Regions from separate parts of the Homo sapiens genome. Here region 2 is linked to region 1. The links come from fine-mapping of genetic effects on gene expression. A gene starts in region 1. The other region holds a variant in brackets. All regions are shown on one strand. Distances are from middle to middle.

What was found. PIP is the estimated chance that this variant, and not a neighbour inherited with it, causes the effect.
Region 2: its variant is fine-mapped to the expression of GPR132 in sun-exposed skin (GTEx, PIP 0.96).

What each region holds. Positions count from the first base shown.
Region 1 is chr14:105,063,274-105,067,643 of GRCh38, forward strand. It overlaps GPR132 (G protein-coupled receptor 132), which reads right to left and starts at 2,157. Exons shown (of 4, transcript NM_013345.4): 1 at 2,106-2,157. RefSeq lists enhancers at 376-435, 636-735, 846-985, 2,663-3,180, 2,856-3,025 and 1 more.
Region 2 is chr14:104,785,655-104,790,024 of GRCh38, forward strand. The region is part of intron 3 of AKT1 (AKT serine/threonine kinase 1); the gene reads right to left. Among named protein-coding and RNA genes, the nearest start is that of AKT1, 7.9 kb to the right of the region's middle. The variant C/T (reference allele first, on the strand shown) is at 1,962.

The DNA.
Region 1 (4,370 bases):
TTCAATAACAGGATCTAGCATGACCTCACCCAGCCACTGTCCCTGGAGCTCTCTGGCCTGCAAGTTGCTGTGCTCCTCCAGTCTTTTAAAATCTATTTTGTAACTTTTTTTTTTTTTTTAGGCTGAGTTTCTCTCTCGTTGCCCAGGCTGGAGTGCAATAGCACGATCTTGGCTCACTGCAACCTCTGCCTCCCGGGTTCAAGTGATTCTCCTGCCTCAGCCTCTGAAGTAGCTGGGATTAGCAGGCGCCTGCCACCATGCCCGGCTAATTTTTTGTATTTTTAGTAGAGAAGGGGTTTCGCCATATTGGTCAGGCTGGTCTTGAACTCCTGACCTCAGGTGATCCGCCCGCCTCGGCCTCCTAAAGTGCTGGGATTACAGGTGTGAGCCACCACGCCCAGCCTGTTTTGTAACTTATGATGGAACTTTTCAGACAGACACAAAAGGACAGAGAAGGAGCCCTGGCCCCTGCCATGTGCAGGGAGCAGTTCCTCATTCCAGCCCATTTGTCAAAAACAGCTCCTCAGGCTGCTGAGGTCTGTCTTGTGGACTATCTGTAATTTCTTTCTTTCTTTTTTTTTTTGAGACAGAGTTTCGCTCTCGTTGCCCAGGCTGGAGTGCAATGGCACGATCTCGGCTCACCACAACCTCCACCTCCTGGGTTCAAGTGAGTCTCCTGCCTCAGCCTCCCAAGTAAATGGGATTACAGGCGTGTGCCACCACGCCCGGCTAATTTTGTATTTTTAGTAGAGACAGGGTTTCACCATATTGGTTACGCTGGTCTCGAACTCCTGACCTCAGGTGATCCACCTGCCTTGGCCTCCCAAAGTGCTGGGATTACAGGCGTAAGCCACCGCACCTGGCTGGATTGCCTGTAATTTCTAAGCTGTTTCACGGTTGCTGGCCATTCCTAGCCATTTCCGTCTTTTACTCCCACCTGCTTTGGCACCAGGCAAACCTATGACCTCTTTTCTGCCGTCACGTTTGAGACAAACCCTAGGGAGGGAAATGTGGAGTCACCAGCTCCAACCTCCCTGCTCCACCACACCCATCCAAAGCCCATTGTCAACTTTCTTATTTTTCCCAATTTGATAGTGTTGCCCAGGCTAGAGTGCAATGGCGCGATCTCGGCTCACTGCAAGCTCCGCCTCTCAGGTTCAAGCGATTCTCCTGCCTCGGCCTCCCAAGTAGCTGGGATTACAGACGTGTGCCAACACGCCCGGCTAATTTTTGTATTTTTAGTAGAGACAGGGTATCACCATGTTGGTCAGGCTGGTCTCAAACTCCTGACCTCAAGTGATCCGCCCACCTCGGCCTCCCAAAGTGCTGGGATTACAGGCATGAACCACCGTGCCCAGCCCCTATCCTCATCTTCTTCCAGGAGCCTCTGCTCTCCCACCTCGGCCTGGCCAATCTCCTGAAATATCATTTTGTGCTCAGCCCAACTGGCCAGTCTTCAGTGGTCAGTCCCAGTCCCTTGCAGTGGTACAGACCCACGTCATGCACTTGACAGAAGGTATTGGGCCCCCCGCCCCGCTGTGCCTGGTGCGCCGAACGCCACTCCAAAGGCCGGTGACCTGCCCAGCTCCAGGATCTTGTCACGTGACTGGGCCAACTGCCACTCACCGCAGCACAGCCCCCACTGCCCTGCTTTTCCCTCTGTGTAACCCCACAAGCAGCACAGGCCCCACAGAGAGAAGCCCAGCCCTTCAGTGCCCCCCGACCAATCACGGAAGCAAGTGGCCAAGGAGAGATTCCAGGGACAAAGTCCAGCCCCCTGACTCACCCCCATCTGGACCAGTAGCCAGGGAAGCCTTTTCCAGAAGAAAGTCTCCAGGAAGGTGGCGGTGACAAAGATACAATGGAAACTGTTGTCCCTCTCCCCCAAATCCTCCGGCCCCATCACATCTGTGGTCACTGGGGGTCCTGGGTTCTCTCGGGAGGGACCCCAGATTAAGAACCCTCAACAAAGCCTCCATCTTTACCAACAAATCACCTTTGCCTTCAGATCCCCCTCTGCCCGCCTCCAGCTCCCAGCCCCCAGCCCCATCCCAGAGCCTGGCCCCCCAGGCCCACTCCCCAGCACGCAGAGCCCAGCGACTTACCCAGGGCCCCGCCTGCGTGGCTAGCCTCGCACCCCTCCCTGCAGTCCTAGCTGAGGTTTCAGGAAGTAGCAGGGGTCTAATTATGTTCTGTCTAGAACTCCCCTAACCACAAACAGGGCTGAGCTAGGGGTTAGCCAACCGGGCTGGGGTATCTTACTGGTGATGACAGCATGGCCTCGTCACCTTCCTGAGGGAGGGAGTGGCAGGAAACCCCAGTCTTACCTCTTTTAGCAATAGCAGCACTCAGAGCCAGGCTCCACTCACTCAGGAGCTCCCAGGCAGGTGCTGGGGCCTGGCGCGGCACAGCGGCTGTCCGTGTGTCCCCAGACAGGCAAGGCAGGACAGGGGTCCTGGAAAGGCTGCAGGGAGGGGTCCTGGAAAGACAAAATCCAGCTCCTCTGCAGCTCAGGCCTGGTGTTGCCCACTCTCGGGCCAGGCAAGCACGGAGCAGGGTGACTTCCCAGAGGCTGTGTCCTCCCAGGAGTCCCTGTCCGGGGTGCCAGGAGTAGAGAGGCTGAGTGCGCCCACTGCAGCCCCGGGACCAGGATGGCACCTGCATGTCCTGGAAGGCTCGGCACAGCCACTGCACACAAGCACCCTCCCCTCCCCGCCTCCCTCTTCCTACATGGGGCAGGGCCGTGTGGGAAGAACAGCCTACTGCACACTCCACATTCCTCCCCCAGCCCTACCTCAACCCCTCCTGCATCCAGAACCAAGCCTGGCCTGGCCCAGGAGCCCTGCGGGTGGGCTTCTCTGTGAGGGGCCCTGTGGGAACTGGAGGGTGGGCAGGCAGGGTTGCCTGGGACAGTCCCCCTCACTGTGGGGCTTCCGGCCATGATGGGCCCAGTTTCCTTGGACAAAGCCAGCTGGCTGTGGACAGCACCTACAACTCCACTCACCTCCAGGCTGCTTCTGAGTTTCAGGGCACAGACCCACCCTGGTGCCCACTCCCGAGCCTGCCAAGCTCCATCCAAGCCAGGCTCTTTCAGCAGTGGGGACAGGGCCGGGCTGAGGGAAGGAGCTGGGGACCACAAATGTCTCCAAGCGACACTGCCCAGCACCGCAGCAGGGACGGTCACTGAGCGAAGAAGCCGCCATCCTGGGTGGGTACACCCACGGCCAGGAGAGGCCGGTGGAGGCCGAGCCCCCAGTCTACACTTTCCCCCAGACACGTGGATCACAGCTGCCCCCTGCTGCAGGGCCGCATGGCTGGAGGCTGCCTCCGAACAGCGATTTCAGAGGGTTTTGTGTGGGTGGCAGTGGAGTCCCTGGAAAGCTGGGCTTTCCCATTGCCCTGGCGGGGAGGCGCAGGTCTCAGGGCAGGGCCTACCTTGGCTTTCCAGAAACACTTGCCCAGGGGACAGTGATCCTCTAGGGGATCTGGTGCAAACACACGCCTCCACAGGCCACTGCTCATGGGGTCACTGGCCTCCCGGGTCTTTGGGCCAGGGCAGCCCCACCCTCGGAGCAGCAATAGACGAAGCCCACATCAGGCCAGTGGGGGTGATGGCCAGGGACAGCTGTGGGTTCCTGTCGCTGGCCCCAGCAGCCTCCTAGGACCTGCCCCGTCCTGCGCCCCACTGGGTGGTCTGTCACGTTCACCAGGCCTCCTCTGCGCCCCCGGTGAGGGGTCCAGGAGTGACATGCGGACCCGGCTCAGGCCATTGTCACCCTCCATGCCTTCTGGCCTTTGCCAGGCAGTCCGGGAATAGCCGATTCAAGTGAGGTCAGTTGAATCCTCTCTTTGGGTCCTTCACTGGGGTCTGGGAAAGGAAAGTTGGGTCCCTTGGGTGGCAGGAGCTGTGGGTATGAACTGGGGGGTTGGCAGCCGTGTACCGGCTCCCCTGCCCCTGCCAGGTGGAGAAGCCAGGCTGGGGTGGAGGGCAGGCAGGAGCCTGGGAGTCCAAACACTGACAGCCTGGGGGTGTGGACTGGCCCTGCCTATTCCCACCGGGCCTTCGGGACCAGTGGAGGCTGCCCCGGGCTGTGCGGCACCTGGGGTGTTGTCTCTGAGAAGCCCGTCAGGGAGATGGCTCTCCCTGCTCTGACCCCAGCAAAGCGATTCATACCCAGAGAATCCCTCACCAACAGGAGAGCAGGTTTCAGACAGGAAGTCACCCGAACATCCCACGGCTGAGTCACGTGCCAGAACAGCTCCCTGCGGCCCAGACACAGCAGTGGTGAGGTCCAAGCTGCAGACATGGGGTACAACTTCACATCCCGATGTGTGCACCAGAAACCGCCCTGCTGTCCGGTGGGTTCACC
Region 2 (4,370 bases), 280 kb before region 1:
AGATCATGACCAGAGAGACCCCAGGTCCTGCCGCCAAGGCAGGGGTTGTAACTTGACACAAACTGCAAATTCTTCACCTCCTTCCGCTCCACCATGGAGCAGGCCTCAGCCCGACACACACACCCCGGGAGGAACATGGTGCGGGCAGGCGGCACCACCATGACCCCGTCCACCTCGCTGAGGCACAGCCGGAGGCGCTGGGGCCTCTCTTCCTGCCACTCCAGGGAAGCACCTGGGTCTCAGCTTTCCATTCTCCTGGGGCTCTACTGGGTGGGGTACTGGGCCTCCCTGGTGCTGCCCCTGACAGACCACCTGGGCCTGGATGTCCTCCCCCACAGGCACTGCCCGTCACCCACCCCTCGGGCCGGCAAAGGCACCCCACCTGCCACACACCCATCCATCGCAGAGCCCAGCACATCCCAAGACCCTGTCCCTGTCCCTGTCCCCCACCTCATTTTTGGTCTGCCCCAAACAAGCCCCACCCATGTCATGGCCCACCCTGCCTACTCAGGACCCCTGCAGATGAGGCTGCAGCCCCTCCCTGGCGCCTCCTACTCTGCCCCCGCCCACTCTCCCCATAACTTGCAGCAGGCTTTGCCAAGTGCCCTCCACCCAGTGGGTTCCCAGGGCCCTCACCCTCGCTCCCTGCGTGGGAGGAAGCTGGGCATGGGGACAGCACACAGTGCCTGCTGCGAGGGAGGGCTGGCCACAGTGTCCCACGTGTAGACACTGCCCTCGGGAAAGGAAGTGGGCACGGGCACAGGCTCCTTCCGGGGCTCGGCCGGGGGCACGCAGCCATGCCCACAGCCCCTCCCTCCTCCCGTCTCTCTTGGGCAGGGCCCCTGGCGGTTGAAGGGCTCCAGTGCTGGCCTCTCAATCCCTGACACCCCAGGAAAAGTGCCCTGCATTGCTGGGGGAACTGGAACCAGGCAGTAGGGACCTCGTCCTCCACACCGACCATGGGAAGCACCCGCCACAGAGGGGCCTTCCATCTCCCCACCATCTTGTTTCTGCCCCAACTTGGAGCCACGCCTGGGGCAGGAGGGCCCCCAGAGCACGGCCAGCTGTGGAGGGTGCTCCTTCTGATCCCCCGGCCTGCTGGGACATTGTGGCCCTGACCCCCGTGGCCTCACCCCACACCTCACCAAGCTTGTGCAGCTCAGCGTCTCCGCGCCCTACACCTGGCTGCTGTGCCCCTGGCCCCAGTCTGTGGGGAGGCCAGCCAGACCCTGGCCAGCCGAAGGGCCTCTCTGCATTCTCCAGGCCCAGGGAGCAGCCACCTCCCCGCCAGGCCTGCCCAGGGGGTGTCTCCACCCCTGAGCTGGACAACCAGCTGAGGGCCTGGGCAGGTGGGCCCGCCAGGTTACAGGGTATGGGTGGGGTCTGCAGTCACCGGGCCCGCCTGGGGGGTGTGTGAGCCCAAACACAGCGCCCCAAGGATCCCACCCCAAAGCCCGCAACATTGGCAGCAGAGTCACCCATGAACTCCCAACCCCCTCAATTCCAACGTTTCTGAAATCCAAACCTATCATTCCTTAAGGTTCAAGGAAAACACACCTAAAGGCGGCATGGCAGGGAAGGGAACTCCCGTTGGAGATGAGGAAGTAAGGGGCCTAGGGTTCGCCTAACAGCCCCATCCTGGCCTGGAGCCCCAGGGCCCTCTGCCAACCTGCCCGGGGCCCCAGCGCTGGGCTGGGGGAACCTTCTCCTGAGGCCATGGGACTAGGCACAATGGTCCAAGCAGACAGAAGCAGCAGGCAGCTGCCCACCCAGGGTGGCCTGGGGAGCAGGCCCAGAGCCACAGCCACAGCCACCAGTCTCAGCTATGGGAGGGCCCGAGGGCAGGGTGCTGGCCCCAAGCCGGGCCGGGTGTGCCCAGGCAGAGGGGACGCCAGCGGGGGCCGCGCCAGTTCCCTCCGCTCAGCCTCGTGCAGGACTTCTAGGAACCCGGCCTGATGCAA[C/T]CCGGCCAGGCTTCTCCTGAGAGTGGAAGGTGTACGGGGGTCTAGGCCCCAGCACAGGAATCATTCCACCCACATTCTGTCCACTCTCCTGGGCCTCAGTTTCCCTTCCCGGAGTCCAGCCCCCCACAGGGCATCCCTGCCCAGAGAGGGCCAGTGACCAAGAAACACACAGGAAGAAGAGCTGTCCACTCAGGAGCCACCAGGCGTGGGGGCTAAGGTCCAGGGCTGGGGCCAGCAGTGACCCCTCACCCCCACTCAAGGCCACCTCGGCTTCCTCTTTTGTTGTTTTTGAAGTGAGAACTCAACAAGCTCCCAAAACAGGAACCTCCCTGATGCTGGCGGCCTCCACCACAGCCATGCCATGACCTCCACCAGCCTGTGCCTCCTGCCCCTCTCCCGGGTAGGCCCAGGGCTGTTGGGACCCCCACTCTCTGCCCAGCCCTCCCACCAGGAGCCAGCACACTTGCCTCCCCATCTCTGTCCCTGGCCTGCCCACGGGGGCCGTTCCAGACCCTCAACGCTCCCCCAGGGGAGGCAGAGCTTGGCACTAACCAGCCCAGGGCCCGCGGGTCTCACACTGAAGCCACCTAGACGCAGCCTGGGGTTGACCCTCACCTGACAGCCTGGGAAAAACTGAGGCCCAGGAGGCACAGGCAGCCCTGGCCTGGAGCCCAAAGGTTCCCACAGGCTGAGGGGAGAGTCTGCGGGCTCCCTCCCTCAGGGTCCTGCTGGGCCCCTCATCCTGGCGGGGTAATGAGCAGCCTCCATCTGCACACAAACAATTAGCCCTGCGGGGCCCTCCGCAGCAGCTGCTCTCTGGAGTGGGCTCAGAGTCCCCCACAGACCTCTTCTCAAGGGTGTTTACTCAGCAAAGCCAAGGCCTCCTCCAGGATGAAGGGGAGTGGCCTGTACCCTCTGAGGTCCCCCACCTCACGCAGGGACCCCAGGACCAGCTGGATGGCTGAGCAGCAGCTGGGGATGCAGTGAGGTTCTATGTCGCTCACCAAAGCGAAGTAACACACTGGGGTAGGAACCACTCTCTCCCTGCCTCAGTGCCCCCCCGCAGGGACAGCCAGTGCCAGGACTTCAAGGCGGGGAGAGGGGGTGGGAAGGAGGCCCAGCCTAGGCACCTGCTTGGGGTCAGAGACCAGCCTCCATACTCCCCACCGGGACGCCTGGGGCTAACTCAGCAGGAGTGGTGAGGGGGCTGCCCTGAGGCCTGGACTGGGGGGTCTATGCCAGGCATGGGCCCGGGGTAGGGCATGGCAAGGACTCAGATGTCCGGAGACTGGACCCTCCGTGAGCCGCATGGACACACGGTCCCGTGTCACCCGGGCCCGGCCAGGCACCCAGATCCGTGGCTTGGACACGCTGCCCACACACTCAGGAGCGTCTGCCGCGTAACCCACGCGCCCCAGGCAGCTTCCCTCGACCCCCGCCCACTCGGCCTTGGCCTGCTGGGTCACAGCCTGCCGAAGGCAGCCAGGCCTGCAGCTCTTCCCCGGCCCCTCTCGGACAGCGACCAGCCTGAGGGAGTCCAGGTGGTGCCCCTGCGGCCGGCACCCACTCCTGGCCTAGGCCCAGCCCTTTCTCGAGAGCCCAGAGCACCTCATCCTGGGTCCCAGCATCCCGGCCACCCGCCTCGGCCCTCTCCTGACCCACTTGGTCCAGCCATGTGGACGGGGGGACGCTCAGGAAGACAGCCGCGAGTGGACAAAAACAGGCTCCAGGCCGGGGCTGCACCAGGGCAGCTCTCCACGGGGCTAGGCTGCAGCCAGGCTGGTGCACGGCCCCAGGAGTACTGGGGCAAGCGGGCAAGGTGAGCAAGCTGTTTGGGGAAAGTACCTCAAAAGAGCCACACAGCCTCTGGCCAAAGCCTGGCACGGAGCTATCAAAGGAAGGAAAACTGCAGGCTGGAGGCCGAGTTCAGCCAGACCTGCGCCCTGGCCCAGGATTGATTTTTTAAAATTGTCAGCCTTCAAAAATCAGGAGACTTCACACAACAGAACAAATCTTTGAAAATGCAAACGTCTGAGCAACACTGAGCCCACCAGACCACCAATGGCCAGAGCTGAGCTGGGCTGCTTATCCAGTGAGACAGCCGAAACAGGAGGGGACATCTGGCCCCCTGTCCCTATAGGCCCCACCAGCCTCCTCACTAGCTCCTGCCCTTAACAGCCTAAGCTCACCCTCCAGGAACCATCTCCCTGTTAGATGTGCAGACCCAGAGGCCTCGCCTGGGTCCAGCCACAGGTCCACACAGGCCTGCAGCCGGAACTCCTGTGTCCCCATGCCCGGTCCCTTCTGTCCCTGAAGCTCCTCTGACTCAGAGCACACACATCAGAACAACAGAAAGCAGCCTGGGCCACTTCCCAGAGATGACGCTCACCTCCCAAGGAGCAGGAGAAG